Regions from separate parts of the Homo sapiens genome. Here regions 2 and 3 are each linked to region 1. The links come from fine-mapping of genetic effects on gene expression. A gene starts in region 1. Each other region holds a variant in brackets. All regions are shown on one strand. Distances are between the middles of the regions. Region 1 holds the start of LINC01649 (long intergenic non-protein coding RNA 1649). Region 2 has its middle 36 kb from the start of NHLH2. Region 3 overlaps LOC101928977 (a long non-coding RNA gene).

The links. PIP is the estimated chance that this variant, and not a neighbour inherited with it, causes the effect.
Region 2: its variant is the best candidate, but not a certain one, in a credible set for the expression of LINC01649 in cerebellum (GTEx, PIP 0.75).
Region 3: its variant is the best candidate, but not a certain one, in a credible set for the expression of LINC01649 in cerebellar hemisphere (GTEx, PIP 0.50).

What each region holds. Positions count from the first base shown.
Region 1 is chr1:115,915,448-115,923,632 of GRCh38, reverse strand. LINC01649 (long intergenic non-protein coding RNA 1649) reads right to left here and starts at 4,257. Exons shown (of 3, transcript NR_125969.1): 1 at 4,074-4,257; 2 at 1,188-1,266. LOC101928977 (a long non-coding RNA gene) reads left to right here. Exons shown (of 5, transcript NR_125970.1): 5 at 1,021-1,060. It also overlaps the pseudogene LOC101928952.
Region 2 is chr1:115,873,114-115,881,298 of GRCh38, reverse strand. No RefSeq gene overlaps it. Among named protein-coding and RNA genes, the nearest start is that of NHLH2, 36 kb to the right of the region's middle. RefSeq lists an enhancer at 859-1,398. The variant T/A (reference allele first, on the strand shown) is at 4,989.
Region 3 is chr1:115,961,049-115,969,233 of GRCh38, reverse strand. The region is part of intron 1 of LOC101928977 (a long non-coding RNA gene); the gene reads left to right. Among named protein-coding and RNA genes, the nearest start is that of SLC22A15, 11 kb to the left of the region's middle. The variant C/ATATTAAACCATC (reference allele first, on the strand shown) is at 3,740.

The sequences.
Region 1 (8,185 bases):
GCCCCTAGGCATTAAAGCATTACAGACCACAGTCATGCCTAAGCACTTTTTGCATTAAGAATAAGGGTCATTTTGTTTACATTTTATCATATGAAGCTGCTCTTTGTGGGAAAAATGGCTTCCTATATTACAAATGCTTGGCCAAAGAACAACTAACATTAACATTAACACTGATTCTAATCAAAAGTGAAAGTGTTGGTAATTTTATGAAGGTTATTTCTTTCCCTAAAGCAAATAGCTGTCAATTGTCACTTTTAGAACTACCATGATTTATTGGAAGAATAACAACTCAGTAGAATTACTGAATTAATTCCCAAACATTTAAAGGGAAAAGAAAAAAAAATGATAAAAGGGATGGTCTGTATGGAGCAGGGAGGGGAAGGGATGGTTCTGAGGCTAAAAAACAAAAAAACAAAAAACCCTTTACTTCTGTCCTTGTGCATTTTTTTAAATAGAAAAAAGCCACTCTGCATTCCCTGGCCTCAAGCCACTAGGTCACTATGTAAAACATAAACAGGGTCTGTGTTTTGCTGCATTTGAGAAAGATGTAAAGGTGTAAATATGATGGAAGGGGTTTTATTTCCTTTCCCCTCTCAGGAATGGTCTGACAGCCCCAGGCTCGAGAATGTGTCTCTCCCAAGTACTCTGTCACCCTGGTAACCATGGAGACCATGACGATCGATTAGATGCCATCTGATCTCAACCTTATAAAAAAAAAGGCAGCAGATGGCAACCAGGCCACTAGACCTGTCTCAAGAGAGACGAAGAGGAAGAGCGAGAAAGAAAAGGAAGGAGGGAGAAAGGGGAGGAGGTGGGGGTGGGTTGGCGCAGGGAGAAGAGAGCCCAGAAGCAGCTCTGGAAATGAAAATTTTAGAAAAGAATGAAAATAGAAAACAAGGAAAGCAATGGAAAAAAAGAAACTAAAACCCATTGTGTGATAGACCTCTACAGTGAGTTGTGGGAAGATAATTCTACAGAGAAAGCGAATCAGCTGTCTCCTAACTTTCCACTTTTATACAGAATGGTGTGGAACCCGGGCCCCAAGGCTTCTCTGAGGGATACGCACCAAGTTGGCTCTCAGAATCGGTTGGACTTTGATGCATCCAAAAGAGAATTCTGAGACCTGGTTCTCAGAATAAATGTCCCTAATCAGATGAGACCTTTCAGGGGACTGTATGCATCAATACCTGGTATGTTTGTCAGCCCATCCCCAGCAGTGTTCTAATACTCCTTAAAGGAAGAAGCGATAACCAGGTCAGTAGATACCTAAGGTGAAAAGAAGACAAGAGCAGTTAAGTCAATTCTGGTAACCTAGGGGTCTTAGCCAGTGTCCCAGAGTAATGTAATGGCTAATATTGATGAAGTGTTTATGATATGTCAGACACTGCTAAGCACTACATACAGAATATTTAATTTAATCCAGATAACAATACCATAAGTTAGGTGCAATAATTATTCCCATTTTACAGAGAGGACCTGAGGCTTAGAGAGGTTAACTACCTTCATCAAGGGCATACCTAGAATGCAATATGTAAATGTTCAGAACAGCTTACTTATATAGAGAGTTGATTTGCTCACTCTTGTTCTTTCTTTTTCAATCCCCTCCCCTACCTTTTTTTTTGAGATGGACTTTCACTCTGTCACCCAGCCTGGAGTGCAGTAGTGCAAACTCAGCTTACTGCAACCTTCGCCTCCTGGGTTCAGGTGATTCTTCTGCCTCAGCCTCTGGAGTAGTTGAGATTACAGGTGTGCACCACCACATCTGGCTAATTTTTGTATTTTTAGTAGAGACAGGGTTTCACCATGTTGCCCAGGCTGGTCTCGAACTCCCAACCTCAGATGATCCACCCACCTTGGCCTCCCAAAGTGCTGAGATTACAGGCATGAGCCACCGCGCCTGGCCTTCTCCTCCTTTTTATTTATTTATTTTCATTTTTTATTTTTTGAGATGGTGTCTTGCTGCATCAGTCAGGCTGGTCTCAAACTCCTGGGCTCAAGTGAGCCTCTGCCTCAGCCTCCCTAGTAGCTGGGACTATAGGCATGCACTACCACACCTAGCATTTTTCCCTTTTACATTTTATTTCAGATTTTTGCAGATTACAAAACAGGACATGTCCAATATAGAAAACTGCTTAAAACAAGAGAAAGAAAGGGAAAATTATCTACAATCCCATTAGTCAGAGATACGTGTGATAAGCATGTGGATTATGTAATATACATATATATATATAGAGAGAGAGAGAGGGAGACAGACATGTATATTTTAAGCAAATATAGTATTAAATCTTAAATACTGTTTGGTTAACCTACTTTTTTTTGGAACATTATATTATGAAAAACTTTCCATATTTTTGACTCTTCTATTTTATCTGATTTAATGATTATAGCATTCTACTATCTGATGTATCATAATTTTATTTAACTACTTCCTTATTATTGGATTGTATTTCCAGATTTTTGCTACTATAAATAATGCTATGGTGATCATTCTTGTATGTAAACCTTTTTTGTACTCCTCTGACTTTTTTCTTTAGAATGAAAACATACTTGCTAAGTCAAAGTGTATGTTTTCTCAAAACTTCTAAATTGAGGTATAGCATATATACAACAAAGTGAATAAATCTCAAGTGTACTGCGATTTGAATTCTACAAGTGTATAGACAATGGGTACAACCACCACCCAGATCAATGGATTAAACATTTTCCAGAATGCTTTTCATGCCTCTTCCCAGTCAATAGCTATCCCCTGTTCTTGAACTTCATATAAATGGAATCATAGAGTGTGTATTCTTTGGTTTCTGGCTTCCTTCACTCAACATAATGTCTGTGAGATTCATCCATGCTGTGGAGTATAGCAGTAATTCATTCTTTTTATTGCTTCATAGTATCCTTTAAAAAAAAAACTACAATTTATTGATTTATTTTTTTCTGATAGACATTTAGGCTATTCTGAATAAAGCTGTTATGTATATTCTTATACATGTCTTTTGGATGACATATTTATACTTCAAAAAATATAAACTAGGAGAGGCATAACTAAATCATAGAGTAAGGCATACTTTCAGCTTTAAATGCAGAGTAAACATTTTTAAAGTTTTATTTTGCTTTTGGAGAGGGGGCCTACTTTTAAATTGATCTCCAAAACAGCTGTACCAATTTGAACTCCAACTATCCAATGTCATGAGTGTACCCTTCCCCTTCCCGCCTTACCACCAGCTAGTGGGCATTTTCATTCTTCTTAATCTTTGCCAGTGTGAGAAACAAAATGGTATCTCATTGTTTATATTGTGTTTGATGACCAAGAAAATGTTAAAAAATTCTTGCTATGTTACCAGATATTCTTGTTTCTTCTTTTGTAAATTGCCCATATACATCATTGCCCTATTTGCTATTAGCTTTAAGATAAGGCAAAAAGCTTAAATATAATCCATATAGTATGTATAGATCCATTGGCATTGTAAGAAAAATTCATTGGTATTTATAACCAAAAAATATTTACATTCTTTCCATAAGTTGACATCCTGCTCTATATATTTCAGAACGAAGTTAACATTTACAGAACACCAATTACTGAGCACATTTACTCTTTAAAACAGCCCTATTTATTTCATTCTTACAATTTCATTTAACTTCAGAGGTAGCATTTAGTTTTCATGAAAAACTCTAAAGGTATTTAATATTCTGCCTATTTTTACAAGTGCAGAAATCAAAGCTCACGGGGCTCAGGGTCACAAATGATTAAGTGGTGGGACTGGGATTTAAACCCAAGACACCTCAAGTCAAAAGTAAATTATTTTTCTCTTTTCTGTAGATGCCATTGCCTAGGTCAGTGCTCTGGCCTATCATCTGAATGTTTGTATCCTCCTAAAATGTATATGTTGAAATCCTCACCGCCATAGGTGATGCTGTTAGGAACTGGGGGCCCTTGGGAGGTGACTGAGTCTCGTGAAGGCAGGCCATCATGAATGATCAGTGTCCTTATGAGAGCTGCCCCCCAAATTTCCCTCACCTCTTCCACTATGTGAGGACACAGCAAGAAGGCACCATTTTTGAACAAGGAAGTTAGCCCTTACCAGACACCAAATCTGCTAGCACCTTGATCTTGGGCTTCCCAGACTCCAGAAATGTGAGAAATAACATTTCTATTACTTGTAAGTCACTCAGGTATGGTATTTTGTTACAGCTACCCGAACAGACTAAGATAAGCAGTGATTCTCTTTTTTTTTCCCCCACATTTCAAACCCTAAGAGGGCATCTGAATTCTAGAACCCCATCCTTAACTCCCTTCCATTCTCAACACACATCTACCATTCCACTACCAAAGTCCAAAGAGTATCAGGATCTCTGGGCTATCAAGAAGATGGAGAATATGAAAAAAATCCATGTTAGCTCATTTATTTTAGAAACTTTTCTTTGTGTGTGGTGTGTTTTAAAATCTGAGTAATGGTTTAATAAATCCAGAAGTAGAATAAGTAGAAGCAGAAGTGAATCTAGGATCTTTTCCTCTTGATAAGTTACTCCTTTTGGGGTCTGAAGCTTACATAATTTTAGAGGCTTTTTAAAAGAAAAAGATGACAAGAATATTTATACAAAATTAGGTTTGAGTGTTGATTTAAAGTGAGAAAAGAAATTGCTATCAATTACACATTTTAAAAATATTTAACTGCCACAAGAATCACAAAATTAAAAATATATATATATACATGGTACTTAATTGCCCTGACACCCCTATATAATTATGCCTTCATTTTTTGGCTCTATATATTCTTGGGTCACGACTTCATATAACAAAGATTTTTGTAGTATTTTCTATCAAGAGGGTACATATAAAGATAGATTAGTCTTTCCAGTAGCATGGTTGATCAAATTTGTTTTTCATTAAGAATTTGGAAAAGTTTCTGTGAGCTTCATAACTCATTATTTGTACTATCACATAAATGCTTGGGATCACAGTTTTAGGAAATTTCCATCAAATTTTTGTCATATGTGAACTCTAAGATTTCAGAGTATCTCTAATTTGTTTTCGTTGTTGTTACTGTTCAATGACTAATCTTTTTTTCTCTTTGAATTTAATGAATTTACATAAAAAAATTAGGTAGTCATTTTGCATTTAAGGAATAAAAATCTTTAAAAAAATACAAAGAATGGAAGGATTTTAGCCAAGTTTACACTTCTTTTTGCTATAATTTGTAACAATTCAGCTCATCATAACTTAATGCAATGTGCAAATGCAGCACGTATTACGATCACTTAACTAAATTTAAGGAAGTACATTGTTAATAGTGGCCCTCAGAGGAAATAGATTTATCTTCTTGTAAAAACTCCATGGTATATAAACATTACATAATAATGCTACTTAACCACCTCTTGTCTCAAGAATCATTACCCGGCGAGGTGCGGTGGCTCATGCCTGTAATCCCAGCACTTTGGGAGGCTGAGGCGGGCAGATCACGAGGTCAGGAGTTCGAGACCAGCCTGACCAACATGGTGAAACCCCGTCTCTACTAAAAATACAAAAATTAGCCAAGTGTGGTTGCGGGTGCCTGTAATCCCAGCTACTTGGGAGGTTGAGGCAGGAGAATCACTTGAACCCGGGAGGTGGAGGTTGCAGCCGAGATCCAGCCTGGGCAACAGAGCAAGACTCTGGTCTCAAAAAAGAAAAAAACAAAAACAAAACAAAAAAACCACAAATGCTTTAATAGTTTTAAAGCAAAAGCTGTTAGAGTCTAGATAGCTAAAACTATACTTGTGAGTTCAAGCTTACAGATAAGTAGCTCTTAATAAAATATATTTTGATATATGTAGTTCTTTTTTTTTTTTTTTTTTTTTTTTTGAGACAGTCTCGCCCTGTCACCCAGGCTGGAGTGCAGTGACATGATCTCGGCTCACTGCAAGCTCCGCCTCCTGGGTTCACACCCATTCTCCCGCCTCAGCCTCCCAAGTAGCTGGGACTACGGGCGCCCGCCACCACACCCAGTTAATTTTTTTGTATTTTTAGGAGAGACAGGGTTTCACTGTGTTAGCCAGGATGGCCTCGATCTCCTAACCTTGTGATCCGCCTGCCTCAGCCTTCCAAAGTGCTGGGATTACAGGTGTGAGCCACCGTGCCCAGCAAGTAGTTCTTTTAAGTAGTTCTTAATAAAATATCCTTCCTCCCCATGCCCCTACCCTAAATCTTATATTGTTCTTATAAAACTTTGGTCAAGAGTAAAAATATATCCAGGCAGATGTATATGTCATACAATAGCAAGAACAGTAAAGCCCAACTAATGACTTTAAAATATAAGACAATTATAATGTACTCAAAGGTACATAAAAAAAAGCTTTCATGGGGGTAATATTGAAACAGTCACAAAGGTTAAGAAAATAGTGATGTCACCTGGGCACCGTGGCTCACGCCTGTAATCCCAGCACTTCGGGAGGCTGAGGCCGGCAGATCACCTGAGTTCGGGAGTTTGATACCAGCCTGACCAACATGGAGAAACCCCATCTTTACTAAAAATACAAAATTAGTTGGGCGTGGTGGCACATGCCTGTAATCCCAGCTACTAGGGAGGCTGAGGCAGGAGAATTGCTTGAACCTGGGAGGCAGAGGTTGCAGTGAGCCGAGATTGCACCATTGCACTCCAGCCTGCGTAACAAGAGTGAAACTCCATCTCAAAAAAAAAAAAAAAAAAAAAAAAAAAAAAAAGAAAAGAAAATAGTGATATCAAAGTACAAATGGCTGCAATGTTAAAATAGACAAAAGCTACTATGCAAGAGCTTCTTTTAAAATGAAAAATATAGAACACAACACATGAGTCGGTGATTTTCCTGTTCTACTCATGAATTTTAGGTTGGTTAGGTTGACATTTAGAAGAGTTTCTTATCACATCTGATGGTGTCATTCCAACTTCGTAGGGTGGGTCTTCCCCAAGGAACCTCTAATCTTGGTTATTGTACAATTTCAAAGTAGTGCAATATCGCCATGATGTGCTGGGTCATGAAGATGTATCCTGCGTATCAATGGAAACCAGCGTGGAATTGAGCACCTTCCGCTCCTCGGGCTCCAGCATGTAGAGCATTGTGACCAGCAGGTGTTGGTAGTAGAACCAGGACATCTACTTCCAGGCCCGCACCAGCTCCATCCCTGCCAGGCGCCTCCTGCGATGAGGTGGCATTTCAGTCTCTCAATGACTAATCTTAAATATGCTATGAATTGATGGCATTCACTATTAACTAATTTGTGATCTATGTCCTCCTTCTAATGGTGTATTATGGTTTATATTATCTTTGTCAATATAAACATTCCTGTCTAATTATAAATTTAAATATTTTACAAATATATTCGTATAACTCATTCTTTTTTATTGATTAGATCATTAAATAATATAAAAGCCTATTTATTATTTCTATTGGCAATTTATCTCTTCCTCTTAATGATTTACTAATTTTGAATTTTTTTTTTTGAGACGGAGTCTCACTCTGTCGCCCAGGCTGGAGTGCAATGGCGCAATCTCGGCTCACTGCAACCTCTGCCTCCCAAGTTCAAGCGATCCTCCTGAGTAGCTGGAATTACAGGCACGGCACCACGCTCAGCTAACTTTTGTATTTTTAGTAGAGATGAGGTTTCACCATGTTGGTCAGGCTGGTCTCAAACTCCTGGCCTCGTGATCCATCCCCCTCAGCCTCCCAAAGTGCTGGGATTAGAGGCGTGAACCACTGTGCCCGGCTGGAAATGATACTTTTTTAAAAAAATATTTTTTAGAGACAGGGTCTCATTCTGTTGCCCAGGCTGGAGAGCAGTGGCAAAATCATAGCTCACTCCATCTTCAAATTCACAGGTTCAAGTGATCCTCCTGTCTCAGCCTCCTGAGTAGCTGAGACTACAGGCACACACCACCGTGCCAGGCTAATTTTGAAATTTTTGGTAGAGATAGGGTCTCACTATGTTGTGCAGGCTGGTCTCAAACTCCTGGCCTCGGCCTCCCAAAGTGTAAGAATTACAGGCATGAGCCACCACACCCAACTGTTTTTTGTTACAGTTTACTGCTAGATATCAGAATTATTTCTATTGACTTTATATGTAAATCTATGAAAAATAGTTTTATTGTATAGTACAAAAACACAATCATGTACACTGCATCTGCATGTGCATTCCCAATAGGAGAGAACTTCCTTTCAATTAGGTGTCAATAGAAACTAA
Region 2 (8,185 bases), 42 kb after region 1:
CACCTGCCTAGCAAACAAGAGTTTTCATGAGTAGCGTCTTCTAACCTTAATGAACATCACAGTGCTACTCCATCAACACTTGAGACTGTATGCAAAAGAAAAACAGGAACTATTTGGTTTTCAGTTGTGAGGCATAGAACTATTACATGATTTGACTAAAGCATGTAGGCACCCCCACAACAGTCTTATGAATAAATAGACACTCATCATGCCCCAGTACCTGAACATGTTAACAGATGTTATAAAATCAGTAGGCAATAGCCTGGCAAATTCAAAATTACTGGAAATTTTCATTGTGATTCATTGGTGGACCAGTGCTAGAACTTTATCATAAGCAATCAGACTAGGTCCTTGTGGAGATTTTGGATTTTCCCATGCAAAATGCTCGTTTTTGGTTTCTCATCAACTTTCCAGCCATCTCTTTCTACCATCTGTTGAGCCCAAGGAATGCACACTTTCTTTTAGAACCACTAGTAAATACTAGGGAAACACTAACATGGAATATAGCTCAAATCCAAATGATTTTTTTTGGTTCTGTTTTTTTTTTTTGTTGTTTGTTTGTTTGTTTTTGAGATGGAGTCTTGCTCTGTTGCCCAGGCTGGAGTGCAGTGGCATGATCTCAGCTCACGGCAACCTCTGCTTGCCGGGTTCAGGCAATTCTCCTCCCTCAGCCTCCCGAGTAGCTGGGACTACAGGTGTGTGCCACCATGCCTGGCTAATTTTTTGTATTTTTGGTAGAGGCGGGGTTTCACCATGCTGGCCAGGCTGGTCTCGAAATTCTGACCTCATGATCCGCCCGCCTCGGCCTCCCAAAGTGCTGAGATTACAGGCGTGAGCCACTGTGCCCGGCCCCAAATGATTGTTTAATACTTTATTAAGGATTGTCTTGAGAACATGAATGAAGATAATGATGAGTTAACTGCAGGGAAAAAAATGTAAGGTTGGTGAAATCTGCTTAGTTGATCCTAATATTTCATCCTTTCTATTTCCTGAAATACAACCCCCACCATACACTCCTGTGGTACTCTCATGGTACACTTGGCTGTCACAAAGAAGACTGGCAGCTCACAACTTAAATTGGTTGTGAAGACTTCAAAGAGGAACTCCCCCCAGGACTCTCTGGGGAGCCAGGAGGGGGCACTCAAGGGATGATTCATGAATGGTAGCGTTGGATCCTATGACAAAAGAAGTGGTTTTATAAGATTGGGATAGGGGTAGCTGCTTTCCTTGGTACCTCAACCCTCAAATCACACTATAGAGGTGACTCCTTCCTTTGTTTAAGTAAAAACTAGATCTCCTTGTTGGAATCACTGTGCTTGTGTGTGTGTGTGTGTGTCTGTGTGTGTGTGTGCATATGTGTGTGTGTGTGCATGTAAGTGCATGTGTATGCAGGCCGAAAAAAAGAGGCTGAGGTCAGGCGCAGTGGCTCATGCCTGTAATCCCAGCACTTTGGGAGGCCTAGGTGGGAGGATTGCTGAGCCCAGGAGTTCGAGACCAGCCTGGGCAACATAACGGGACCCCATCTCAAAAAATAAAAGTAAAAGAAGCTGAAAAGCAGAATATAAGTAAATCCATAAATAATTGTACTGAAGGAAATTACCATCAAATAAGTCTTGTAGTAAATACAATTAAAAGAAAGTTGCTTTATTTCCCTGTTTTTATTCGTGAAGCTGAGCAAGACAGAATGTTTAATGGAAAATAGACTGGACTAAACAGGCAACAATTTCCCTGTAGGTCAGAGAAGCCTGTTTCTCCTTAAGTCTCCTAACACCTCTTATACCTCTCTCTACTTCTTTCAGATATTTGAAGTTCTTTGTACTACAAATATCTGTTAAGAAAGGAAAGAACACTTAATGATTATGATTTATTTGTGTCTCTATTATAGCAACTGTTGATTTACCCCCTGTATTAGTTGTCTCTGGGTCAGACAACCCCTCTCTATTAATAAACTTCTTGAGGTCAGATAGCATTCTTTCTCATTTTTCAGTCTCTCACAGCACACAGTGCTCCTCCTTTCATGTGGCAGGTACTCAGTAAATGTTTCTTGATTTATGAATAGTATCCCTTTAAATACTTGAAGGCTGCTATCAGTTTTCCCCAAGCCTCTTCAGGCTAAAAATTCCAAATTCTCCACTGCTCGGTGTACAATAAACACCCTTCTTTTAACACCTTGTGCATGTCAGAGGACTGCCCCCAACCCTGGCACTTTGGTCCCCTAGACAGAGTTAAATGATCAACGTGAGGTTGTTTTATCCAGCCCCGTATTCCTTGACCGCCCCAATTACCTCAGCACCTGGGGACTCAAGAAAGCTGGTGGAGACCAAAAATCCTGTGCTTTCACAGGAACTTTGGTTAATCAGGTCTCTCTCACCCTATCCTTGTGGAGACTAAATGTTTAAAACTGAATTCAGAGCTTCACATTTATTTCTGTTAAAATTCATTTTGTGATAGTTTCATCCCCGTTCTCCAAACTGTAATGACCTTTCTGTATTGCAATTATCTCACTAGGTATCAATCCCAGCTATGTGACATCTGAAAATGGTCCAACAAGCACTACACACGTCCAGGTAAAAGAATATGAAAAAGTATTAGGCAAGAGAGGATAAAGTATTAGGCTGGAACACGTAAAACTACCATTTTTATAGGTCAAAAGTGCTCACATATCACCAGTATTTAATGCTGCAGCCTAAGGTATTGTTCCAGGACTTCCAAAATGGCAGGGAGGCTTCACTTGAACTTCTCTTCCTGCGACTGCTTAAACGAGTGCTACTGTGCCTCACTGCAGCCTGTGCAGACTGCATTTCCTCCTGTTGTCATGAAAGGCATGTTGATGCTCATTATCCATTGCTTTGCTGAAAGCCTCTCAGAGTCAAGGGGAAGAGCAAAAGCTCCAGAGCCAGCCTGCCTGTTGAGCTCTGGCTCTGTTACACTGGCTGTGTGACCTCTGGCAAGTTCATTGACTCCCCTGTGCCTCTGTTTTCTCATCTGGAAATAGAGATAATGGTAGTACTGTTGCTGAATTTTACTCCTTAGTTCAGCTAAAACCTGGCTTCTTGTCACACAACCAGGAAAACTTAGGCACGTGGACACATCAAAGGGTGTGTAGAGCAGGATTGTATTGGGTGAAAGGTGAAAAATGAAAAAGAGGCCAGGCGCAGTGGCTCACGACTGTAACCCCAACACTTTGGGAGGCCTAGACGGGCGGATCACTTGAGGTAAGGAATTCGAGACTAGCCTGCCCAACATGGCGAAACCCCGTCTCTACTAAAAATACAAAAAATTAGCCGGGCATGGTGGCAGGCGCCTGTAATCCCAGCTACTTGGGAGGCTGAGGCAGGAGAATCGCTTGAACCCAGGAGGCGGAGGTTGCAGTGAGCTGAGATCACGCCACTGCACTCCAGCCCGGGTGACAAGAACGAAACTCCATCTCAAAAAAAAAAAGAAAAGAAAAAAAAGATCTCAGCAATGTGTGATGGACCCCTGCTAACAGGCCCTCTACCTCACTGATTGATTCCCAGGTCACCGCAGGAGCTGAAGAGAGCAGGCTCTTCCCATGCATAATGTGTGAATTTCCTGTGGCTCCACCCACTTCCCCCAGTGCACACGCCAGGGTCTAGTCAGCTGTGTGCATGCACAGACAAGCCCTGGGCATCTAGCCCTCATCTGCACAAAAGCATCTGATGTAAACACTTTTGAAGCCGGTCAGAGATTCTCTGGGACTCCTTTTTATCTGCCTAGGATTTGACTGTCTCAGGACCTGCCTCACAGGATTCTTTGAGGCCTGAAGAAATGGAGTGCTTGGAGACACGCTGGCAGGTGGTGCTCAGTATATTATTAGTATAACATTTTTCCCTGGAAAATCAGGCTGAGTGCAGGGCTTTTCACTCCTTTATTCCATCAAGTATTCATAAACTACCTAATTTAATTAAATCAACCCAGAATTTTCCCGGGTATCAGCATCAAGCTCACAGGGTGGCAGATTCTGAAATATGTATTTCCCCACGTTAAAAATAAGCACACTGGTCCTTCTCTCAGCTTTCAGGCAGGTTCTTGTGCCCTTTCACCCAAGGTTGAGGTAAGGGTTTCCCAATCACATCTGCACATTTTTCATCCAGCAGCAGATTTGAGCCCATGAAAAACAAGGAGGGGGCTCTTAGTATTTATTCAACTAGTTAGTGCTCAAATTCTTTCCTAGCCAATATGATGGTATCCATTATCATTAGAAAATCATTTTCCTTGATAGAGAAAATTAAAAAAAATTATGAAATGAATTGTTCTGCCTTCTTTGTGCTGCTGTTAACACTAAATTGACAAATGGCCATATGCTTCCTTGTCTTTCCAGCACCAAGCATAGCTAAAAAGCTTTTTCAATTGTCGTTGGCATGCTTCACAAAACCTTGCCTAGTTCTGACCTTTACCATGCAGGAATAATACCTACTTGTGTCATTCTGTGTTAGCCCTCAGCTCAGTGTTCTTCATTCACCTACGCAGATCCTTTAAATACCTGAGATCATCTGGGAGCTCCCTCTATGGACACACTGTTTCCCATTTTTCTCTCTTATCACGATAATTTATGACTAAAGAGTTAGAATTTCTGTTTAGAACCTGCCATTCCTCTTAAGTCACTCGGTCTTTTTGAAATCAGACTACATGGTCACAGCTATTTTTTCTCCAAACTTTTTTGAATTCTATTTTCTTAAAACCTAAATTAGATGTTAGCACTTCAACAAACATTTTCTTCCTATACTATAATATGATGGTCCCTTGTATATGACATTGCTGTCAATTTCTCATCTTTCTTCCCAGTTCCTCAGTTTTGGTCAGTGGAGAGCAAACTGGTCAGTGGAGAGTAACTGTCCTTCATTGCATCTTTCAACTTCTGAGAGATTGAATCACTGGCAAGGAAAGTCAAGAATTTATTAAATATCATGGGGCTTTTTGAAGGCAGGCAGAATGAGACTCCTATTAATCATTTTAAGTAAGCTTTT[T/A]AAAAGTTATAATATATGTACAGAAAAGGTCCGAAATCATAAGTGTAGAGCTAGAGCTCAATCTATTTACTTAGTTATTTATTTATTTTTGCAACAAGGTCTCACTGTCATCCAGGCTGGAGTGCAGTGATGCCATCTTGACTCACTTCAGCTTCAACCTCCCGAGCTCAAGTGATCCTCCCACCTCAACCTCCTGAGTAGCTGAGACTACAGGTGCGCTCCACCTTGCCTGTCAAATTTTTGTATATTTTTTGTAGAGATGGGTTTCACCATGTTGCCCAGGCTGATCTCCAACTCCTGGCCTCAAGCGATTCACCCATCTTGACCTCCCAGAGTGCTGGAGTTACAGGCACGAGCCACTGCATCCTGCAAGCTCAGTGAATTTCTGTGAAGTGAACACACACATCTAACTACCTAATTACAAAACCTATCAGCTCCACGGAAACTTTCCTCTTGCCTCATAAATTAGTTTTAATGGAATTATAATCTGTACTGGGAAGGTAACAATTACCATAATAGGAGTAACCATTTCTTGAGAACTTAACTATGTGCCAAGCACTGTGCTAAACAATTTATATGTATATAAGCTCCACAGCTCTGTGAGGTGGGTCTCGTTATTTTCCCCATTTTAAAGATAAGAAACTGAAGCTGGGAGGAAATAGGGGGATACTGGTTAACGTCAGAGACCATAAGTCTGTGAGATCTATTGCAGAGCAGGGTGACTACAGCTAACAATATATTGTTTATTTCAAACTTGCTAAGAGAATAAATTTCAAATGTCTCACCATGAAAAATAATGTCAGGTAATAGATATGTTAATTAGATTGATTTAATCATCCCACATTGTATATCAAAACATCACATTATACCCCATAAACATATACAATTATCTTTCTATTAAAATAATATTAATTTTAAAATAATAAATTAAAAAACACAAAGAAATCACTCTCACAAAAAGGCTCTGGCTGTTGAATGGTATATAGTGGCTGCCTCAGCTACTGGGAACATGAAAATTGTTTCCCACGATCCAGTAAATTTTATAAAAGCCATAATATGTAACAATAACAGAATGGGAGCAAGAAAATTGTTTCTACATATATTATGAGACAGGAATGAACACTAGTTTTCAACCGGAAATGTCCATGACTCAGAATGTCCTGTTTCCTGGGAGTTCTAGCTAACTTAAATGTTACTGTGATCATTTGTACTTGCTGACCACATAGTGTGACGTGGCATAAGGGGGTGTTCAATAGATCTTGCTTGAAAGCTGAAAAGAACACGAAACTGAAGCCTAGAGAGGTTAGATTACTTGCCCAACATCACTAGCTGGAATTCAAACTCAGGTCTAGCTAATTCCGGAGACTGCATTCTTAACCATTATAATAGACACATGGTCCACAGCTTCCACTTGGCTGGCCAGGCCGTAGATCAGGGCTTCTCAACTTCCACACTATTGACATTTGGGGCTGAAAGTTTCTTTGGGGCTGTCTTCTGCATTTTAGGACGTTTATCAGCCTTCCTAGCGTCAACCCACTAGATGCCAGAAGCATCTTCATCTCCAACCAGTCATGATGTCAGAGGTGCTTGAGCCAGAGCGACTCCATCTTGAATAGGGGCTGGGTGAAATAAGGCTGAGACCTGCTGGGGTGCATTCCCAGTAGGTTAGGCATTCTTAGTCACAGCATGAGATAGGAGGTTGGCACAAAATACAGGTCATAAGGACCTTGCTGATAAAAACAGCAAGAAAGAAGCTGGCAAAAACTCACCAAAACCAAGATCCCAAAGAAAGTGACTGCTGGTCATTCTCATTGCTCATTATATGCTAATTCTAATACATTAGCATGTTAAAAGACACTTTCATCAGCACCATGACAGTTTACAAACATCATGGCAACATCCAGAGTTACCCTATATGGTCTAAAAAGGGGAGGAACCCCCAGTTCTGGGAATTGCCCACCACTTTCCTGAAAAACTCATGAATAATCCACCCCTTGCTTAGCATACAATAAAGAAGAAACTGTAAGTATACTCAGTTGAGCAGCCCATGCTGCTGCTCTGCCTATAGAGTAGCCATTTTTTTTTTTTTTGAAATGGAGTCTTGCTCTGTTGCCCAGGCTGGAGTGCAGTGGTGTGATCTTGGCTCACCGCAACCTCTGTTTCCTGGGTTAAAGCGATTCTCCTGCCTCGGCCTCCCAAGTAGCTGGGATTACAGGCGTGCGCCACTGCGGCCAGCTAATTTTCATATTTTTAGTAGAGACAGGGTTTCACCATGTTGGCCAGGCTGGTCTCGAACTCCTGACCTCAGGTGATCCACCCGCCTCGGCCTCCCAAAGTGCTGGGATTACAGGCGTGAGTCACAGCGCCCAGTCTGCCATTCTTTTATTCCTTTACTTTCTTAATAAACCTTGCTTTCACTTCACTCTGTGGACTCGCCCTGAATTCTTTCTTGTGCAAGGTCCAATAACCCTCTCTTGGGGTCTGGATCAGGACCCCTTTCTGGTAACAATGATAACCAAAAACATCTCCAGACATTGCCACATGTTTCATGAGGGGTACAACTGCCCCTAGTTGAGAAGCGCTAGTATAGACAGTCCCATACTTTCACGCCTCCCTTCTCCCTCCTCATTCATTAGCTGAGTCCATCCTCAGTCAAATGGATACTAAGATAGGTGTGCACCTTTCTGACAGCCGGTGCTATTCCAAAACCCTAGGATTCATCAGTTTCTTTTGAACTCCTGCCCTGCAGTGACAAGCTTCACTGCTTGGGTTGTATTTAACAAGCTGAATTAAAAGTTCTGCTTCATTTCATCATCCAAATACATTCATGGCCGTGCAGTCTTCTGTAGCCACAGATATCAGTGCTCCTGCCAACAACTGGCACAACTCCTGTCTTGTTTCCTTTTCACCTTGTTATAGAAAATCACCAGAAACTTCCTCCCAAACACTTCCTTCTTTTCCCTTGCACTCACCATCCTCCATATAGATAACTGTATGTTAGAGTCATGGAAGAAACAGCTGGTATACGTAAGGGCAATTTGAGAAGCAGTTTTTAAAGATCTTACTTACAAAGTGTAGAGATGATTAGGGGAAACTGAGGCTGGATAATGTAGCAGCTTTAGTGGCAACCACACAGAGTTGTTACAACTCCTTGGTCTGAAGGGGAAAGAGGAAGGTGTGGTTACTTGAACCCAGAG
Region 3 (8,185 bases), 46 kb before region 1:
TTTGTTTCATTGGTAATTTGGCGTCCCAGATGGCTACTGAAATTTGGTGTGTAAGATAATAGACTTTCTGGATGTCACATATTGTTAGAAATCCTTGGAAATCAGTGTTCTATCCCAGCCTAAATGCACTGCCTTTTAAAGAAAAATCTGAAGAACATTTCTCCCTCTTCATAAGCCTTCATTCATGCTGAGATAACACTTTATAGTTAGAATGTCACAGCACCATACCTTAATAAAGATATCTAAAGTACATATACCTCTGTCAACATTAAGTTGATATAAACATAGCAAATATGACGGGAAGAAACAAATAACAAGGGAGTCAGGAGATTTTGTGGGTAGATGCCTGGGAAGAAGGAGCAAAAGACAAAGGGAAGAGAAGTAAAAAGAAAATGGAGTTAGCAGTGAGGTGGACATCATCTGGTCTTCCAAACCAACAACGGTCATTCAAAAAGATTGTTAAGTGGGTGAAAAACATATTTAAAAAGATCTACATTTAATATGGAGAAATTGGCCATTTCCATGTCTCAAACCTTAGCAATAAAACAAAAGAGTATAAATAGAGTTAGGTGTAAAATTCAGGAAGTTAAGGTAGAGAGATATGAAATATGAGGAAAACTAACCGTTAATTATATTTGAATTTAGATAGTAGAGTGTATTGCTTGCTAAGAGTCCAATTTTACATGTTGTCCAAGAGGCACTAAGCTTAGATAATAGTGCATTCATTTAATTCAACAGGTTCATTCCTGAGTGCTCATATTTAATGAAAATGTCAGTGATGTTACTGTTTTTGTTGCTGTTGCTGATGCTATTTCTTACATGGAAGAGTTATATAACTAGGGAATACTGAGTGACATGATGAATTTGCTGTATTCATGGAGTCAATAAATAGAGTGATTCAGTAGAATGGATGAAAAACTTGGCCTATGCAGGCACAAATGCCTCACAGTTTCTCAGGATTAAAATATAGATGCTTATTGGAACTTCCAGAACCACTTCTATTGGTTGAGTATTGCATAAGGATGACAATGACGTATATCAAGAGTCTCAAAGCCAACTGGGCTTTTTAAATTAAAACCAGCAATTTGCATTGCTTTTATTTTTTTCCATTTTTATTTATTTTTATTTCTGTTTTTTATTTTTCCATAAGGTATTGGGGTACAAGTGATATTTGGTTACGTGAGTAAGTTCTTCAGTGGTGATTTGTGAGATTTTGGTTCACCCATCACCCAGGCAGTATACACTGCACCCCATTTGTAGTCTTCTATCCCTCGACCCCCTCCCACTCTTTCACCCCAAGTCCCTAAAGTCCATTGTATCATTCTTATGCCTTTGCATCCTCATAGCTTAGCTCCCACATGTCAGTGAAAACATATGATGTTTGGTTTTCCATTTCTGAGTTGCTTCACTTAGAATAGTAGTCTCCAATCTCATCCAGGTCACTACAAATGCCGTTAATTCATTTCTTTTTATGGCTGAGTAGTATTACATCAAATATATACACCACAATTTCTTTATTCACTCATTGATTGATGGGCATTTGCATTGGTTCCACGATTTTGCAATTGTGAATTGTGCTGCTATAAACCTGCCTGTGCAAGTATCTTTGTCGTATAATGACTCCGTTTCCACTGGGTAGATACCCAGTAGTGGGATTGCTGGATCAAATGGTAGTTCTACTTTTAGTTCTTTAAGGAATCTCCACACTGTTTTCCACATGTAGGTGGGGATGTACTAGTTTACATCCCCACTAGCAGTGTAGAAGTGTTCCCTGATCACTGCACCCACGCCAACATCTACTGTTTTTTGATTTTTTTATTATGGCCATTCTTGCAGGAGTAAGGTGGTATCACATTGCGGTTTTGATTTGCATTTCCCTGATCATTAGTGATATTGAGCATTTATTTTTTATTTTTTTTTTATTTTTTTTGAGACGGGGTCTTGATCTGCTGCTCTGTTGCCCAGGCTGGAGTGCAGTGGCGCGATCTCCGCTCACTGCAAGCTCCGCCTCCCAGGTTCACGCCATTCTCCTGCCTCAGCCTCCCGAGTAGCTGGAACTACAGGTGCCCACCACGACGCCCAGCTAATTTTTTTGCATTTTTAGTAGAGACGGGGTTTCACCATGTTAGCCAGGATGGTCTCGATCTCCTGACCTCATGATCCGCCCACCTTGGCCTCCCAAAGTGCTGGGGAGCATTTTTTCTTGTTTGTTGGGCCATTTGTTTGTCCTTATTTTGAGAATTGTCTATTCATGTCCTTAGCCCACTTTTTGATGCGATTGTGTTTTCTTACTGATTTGTTTGAGTTCATTGTAGATTCTGGATATTAGTCCTTTGTCAGATGTACAGATTGTGAAGATTTTGTCCCACTCTGTGGATTGTCTGTCTACTCTGCTGACTGTTCCTTTTGCTGTGCAAAAGCTCTTTAGTTTAATTAAGTCTCAACTATTTATCTTTGTTTTTATTGCATTTGCTTTTGGATTCTTGGTCATGAAATCCTTGCCTAAGAATGTCTAGAATGGTTTTTCCAATGTTGTCTTCTAGAATTTTTATAGTTTCAGGCATTAGATTTAAGTCCTTAATCCATCTTGAGTTGATTTTTATGTAAGGTGAGAGATGAGGATCCAGTTTCATTCCCCTACATGTGGCTAGCCAATTATCCCAGCACCATTTGTTGAAAAGGGTGTCCTTTCCCCACTTTATGATTTTGTTTGCTTTCTTGAAGACCAGTTTGCTGTAAGTATTTGGGTTTATTTCTGGGTTCTCTATCCTGTTCCATTGATCTATGTACCATTTTTATACCAGTACCATGCTGGCTTGTTGACTATGGCCCTACAGTATAGTTTGTAATCAGGTGGTGTGATGCCTCCAGATTTGTTCTTTTTGCTTAGACTTGCTTTGGGTATGTGGGCTCTTGTTTGGCTCCATATGAATTTTAGAATTGTTTTTTCTAATTTTGTGAAGAATGATGGTGGTATTTTGATGGGGATTGCAATGAATTTGTAGATTGCTTTTGGCAGTGTGGTCATTTTCACAATATTGATTCTACCTATCCATGAGCATGGGATGTGTTTACATTTGTTTGTATCATCTATGATCTCTTTCAGCAGTGTTTTGTAGTTTTCCTTGTAGAGGTTTTTTGACTCCTTGGTTAGGTATATTCCTAGGTATTTTATTTTTTTGGCAGCCCTTGAAAAAGGGGCTGAGTTCTTGATTTGATTCTCTGCTTGGTCGCTGTTGTATAGAAGAGCTACTGATTTGTGTACATTAATCTTGTATCCGGAAACATTGCTGAGTTATTTTACTAGTTCTAGGAGCTTTCTGGAGGAACCTTTAGGGTTTTCGAGGTAAATGAGCATATGGTCAGCAAACAGTGACAGTCTGACTTCCTCTTTACTGATTTGGATGCCCCTTATTTCTTTCTCTTGTCTGACTGCTCTGGCTAGGACTTCCAGTACTATGTTGTAGAGGAGTGGTGAGAGTGGGCATTGTTACCTTGTTCCAGTTCTCAGAGAAAATGCTTTCAACTTTTCCTCATTTGGTATTATGTTGGCTGTGGGCTTGTCGTAGATGGCTTTTATTACATTGAGGTATGTACCTCATATGCCAGTTTTGCCGAGAGTTTTAATCATAAAGGGATGCTGGATTTTGTCAAATGCTTTTTCTGCATCTATTGAGATGATAGTGTGATTTTTGTTTTAATTCTGTTTATGTGGTGTACCACATTTACTGACTTGCAT[C/ATATTAAACCATC]ACTGCATCCCTGGTATGAAACCCACTCAATCGTGGTGGATTATCTTTTTGATATGTTGCTGGATTTGGTTAGCTAGTATTTTGTTAAGGATTTTAGCATCTATGTTCATCAAGGATATTGGTCTGTAGTTTTCTTTTTTGGTTTTGTCCTTTCTGGTTTTGGTATTAGGGTAACGCTAGCTTCATAGAATGAATTAGGGAGGGTTCCTTCTTTCTCTATCTTGTGGAATAGTGTCAAAAGGATTGGTACCGATTCTTCCTTGAATGTCTGGTAGAATTCTGCTGTGAATCCATCTGGTCCCAGGCACTTTTTGTTGGTAAATTTTTTTTTTTTTTTTGAGACAGAGTTTCGCTCTTGTTGCCCAGGCTAGAGTGCAATGGTACGAACTCAGCTCACTGCAACCTCCATCTCCTGGGTTCAAGCGATTCTCCTGCCTCAGCCTCCCAAGTAGCTGGGATTACAGGCATGCACCACCACACCCAGCTAAATTTGTATTTTTAGTAGAGATGGGGTTTCACCATGTTGGTCAGGGTAGTCACGAACAGTAATTTTTTAATTACCATATCAGTCTCACTGCTTGTTATTGGTCTGTTCAGAGCATCTAATTTTTCCTGATTTAAGCTAGGAGGGTTGTATTTTTCCAGGAATTTATCCATCTCTTCTAGGTTTTTTAGTTTATGTACGTAAAGGTGTTCATAGTAGCCTTGAATGATCTTTTGTATTTCAGTGGTATCAGTTATAATATCTCCTGTATCGTTTCTTAATGAGGTTGTTTGGATTTTCTTTCTTCTTTTCTTGGTTAATCTTGCTAATGGTCTATTAATTTTATTTATCTTTTCAAAGAACCAGCTTTTTGTTTCATTTACCTTTTGTATTTTTTTGTGTGTTTCAGTTTCATTTAGTTCTGCTCTGATCTTGGTTATTTTTGTTTTCTTCTGCTGGGTTTGGGTATGGTTTGTTCTTGTTTCTTTAGTTCCTTGAGGTGTGACCTTAGAATGTCAGTTAGTCTCTTTCAGTCTTTTTGATACAGGCATTTGGTGTTATGATCTTCCCTCTTAGCACCACCTTTGCTATATCCCAGAGGTTTTGATAGGTTGTGTCATTACTGTCGTTCAGTTTGAATAATTTTTTAATTTCCATCTTGATTTTGTTTTTGACCCAATGCTCATTCAGAAACAGGTTATTTAATTTCCATGTATTTGTATGGTTTCGAAGGTTCCTTTTGGAGTTGATTTCCAGTTTTATTCCACTGTGGTCTGAGAGAGTGTTTGATATAATTTCAATTTTCTTAAATGTATTGAGACTCTTATGGCCTATCATATGGTCTATCTTGGAGAAAGTTCCATGAGTTATTGAATAGAATGTGTATTCTGTGGTTGTTGGATGAAATGTTCTGTATATATCTATTAAGTCCATTTGTTCCAAGGTATCGTTTAAATCCATTGTTTCTTTGTTGACTGTCTTTCTTGATGACCTGTCAAGTGCTGTCAGTGGAGTATTGAAGTCCCCCACTATTATTTTGTTGCTGTCTATCTCATTTCTTAGGTCTATTAGTAATTGTTTTATAAATTTGGGAGCTCCAGTGATAGGCACATATATGTTTTGGATTGTGATATTTTCCTCTTGCACAAGGCCTTTTACTGTTATATAATGTCCCTCTTTGTCTCTTTTAACTGCTGTTGCTTTAAAGTTTGTTTTGTCAGATATAAGAATAGCTACCCTGCTCACATTTGGTGTCTATTTGCATGAAATGCCTTTCCCCCTGCTCTTTACTTTAAGCTAATATGAGTCCTTATGTGTTAGGTTAGTCTCCTGAAGGCAGCAGGTAGTTGGCTGGTGAGTTCTTATCCGTTCTGAGGTTCTGTATCTTTTACGTGGAGCATTTAGGCCATTTACATTCAATGTTAGTATTGAGATGTGAGGTACTGTTGCATTCATTGTGCTATTTTTTTGCCTGTGCACCTTGGATTTTTTGTTTTATGTTTTTGCCTTTTAACTTGTTTTTTGGTTTTATAGGTCCTGTGTGATTTATGCTTTAAAGAGTTTCTGTTTTGATGTGTTTCCAGGATTTGTTTCAAGATTTAGAGCTTCTTTTAGCAGTTCTTGTAGTGGTGGCTTGGTATATCGACGTCTCTCACCAATTGTTTGTCTGAGAAAGACTGTATCTTTCCTTCATATATGATGCTTAGTTTCGCTGGATACAAAATTCTTGGCTGATAATTGTTTTGTTTGAGGAGGCTGAAGATAGGTCCCCAGTCCCTTCTATCTTATAGGGTTTCTGCTGAGAAATCTGCTGTTAATCTGATAGATTTTCCTTTGTAAGTTACCTGGTGCTTCTCTTTCACCGCTCTTAAGATTCTTTACTTTGTCTTAACTTTAGATAACCTGATGACAATGTGCTTAGGCAATGAGCTGTTTGTGACGAATTTCCCAGATGTTCTTTGTGCTTCTTGTATTTGGATGTCTAGGTCTCTAGCAAGGTGAGGGAAGTTTTCCTCGATTATTCCCCCAAAATGTTTTCCAAGCTTCTAGAATTCTCTTCTTCCTCAGGAACACCAATTATTCTTAGGTTTGGTTATTTAACATAATCCCAGACTTCTTGGAAGCTTTGTTCATATTTTCTTAGTCTTTTTTATTTCTCTTTGTTGGGTTAGGTTAATTCGAAGACCTTGTCTTCGAGTTCTGAATTTCCTTCTTCTACTTGTTAATTCTATTGCTGAGACTTTCCAGAGCATTTTGCATTTCTATAAGTGTCTCCAATGTTTCCTGAATTTCTTATTGTTTTTTCTTTAAGCTATTTCTTTCCTTGAATATTTTTCCCTTCACTTCTTGTATCATTTTTCGGATTTCCTTGCATTGGGCTTTGTCTTTCCCTGGTGCCTCCCTAATTAGCTTAATAACTAACCTCCTGAATTCTTTTTCAGGTAAATCAAGGATTTCTTCTTGGTTTCGATTCATTGCTGGTGAACTAGTATGATTTTTGGGGGGTGTTAAAGAGCCTTGTAACCAGAGGTGGTTTTCTGGTTCCTTCTCATTTGGGTAGGCTCTGTCAGAGGGAAGGTCTAGGGCTGAAGGCTGTTGTTCAGATTCTTTTGTCCCACAATATGTTCCCTTGATGTAGTACTCTCCCCTTTTTCCTGTGGATGTAGCTTCCTGTGAGCCAAACTGCAGTGATAGTTGTCTCTCTTCTGGGTCTAGCCACTCAGCGAGTCCACCTGGCTCCGGGCTGGTACTGGGGGTTGTCTGCACAGAGTCCTGTGATGTAAACTGTCTCTGCGTCTCTCAGCCGTGGATACCAGCACCTGTTCCAGTGGAGGTGGCAGGGGAGTGCAATGGACTCCGTGAGGGTTCTTAGCTTTGCTGGTTTAATGCTCTATTTTTGTGCTGGTTGGCCTCCTGCCAAGAGATGGTGCTTTCCAGAGAGCATCAGCTATGGTAGTACGGAGAGGAACCGATGGTGGGTGGGGCCCTAGATCTCCCAAGATTATATGCCCTTTGTCTTCAGCTACCAGGGTGGGTAGGGGAGGACCATCAGGTTGGGTCAGGGCTAGGCCTGTCTGAGTTCAGACTCTCCTTGAGGGGGTCTTGCTGTGGCTGAGTATTTGGGGTGTCTCCTGGGTCCTACAGGAGCAGTCAGATTCCTTCAGAGGGTCTGTGGGTCCTCTTGGGATTGCTGGCTTGTTCTTGCAGTCAATCTGGAGCTAAAATTCACAATGCAAGCCTCCGCACACTGTCTGTCCATCTGAATCATCTAGTTCTGCCTCCCGTCTGGTCTGCCATAATGATCTCTCTCCCTCTCCATTGCTTTTAGAAAATAGGAAACCAAAGTAGATTACAGGGAATCAAATTTGATACACTTAATCTACTCAGGCTCAGAAAGGAGAGGTCACAAATCCTAAACCATTCTGAAAATCATCAGTATTAGAATGCATTCAACACATGGTTGCTGAGGACCTGCTTTGTACTGAGCACTGTTGTAGAGATAATACAGTGTTTAAACCAGACAAAAATTCTAGCTTGTGGAGCTTGCATTCCAGTGAAGACTTTTCCTTCTTGGCAGCAGTTCCAGATGGGATGGGTGGGGTGATGGCAAGGAGAAAGAGAATGAAGTTGTAGATTGTGGAAATTGCACCCTTGCTCTATTTTGTGATCATGAAATAAAAACATAAGCAATGTGATGTCCAGGCCTTATGACTCATGCCTGTAATCTCAACACTTTGGGAGGCCAAGATGGAAGGATTATTTGAGTCCAGGCATTCAAGACTAGCCTGGGCAACATAATGAGACCTCATCTGTACAAAATATTTTTAAAAATTAGCTGGCACGGTGGCATGCACCTGTAATCCCAGCTACTTGGGAGGCTGAGGTGGGAGGATCTCTAGAGCCAGGGAGGTCAACATTGCAGTGAGCCCTGACCACACCACTGCACTCCAGCCTGAGCCACA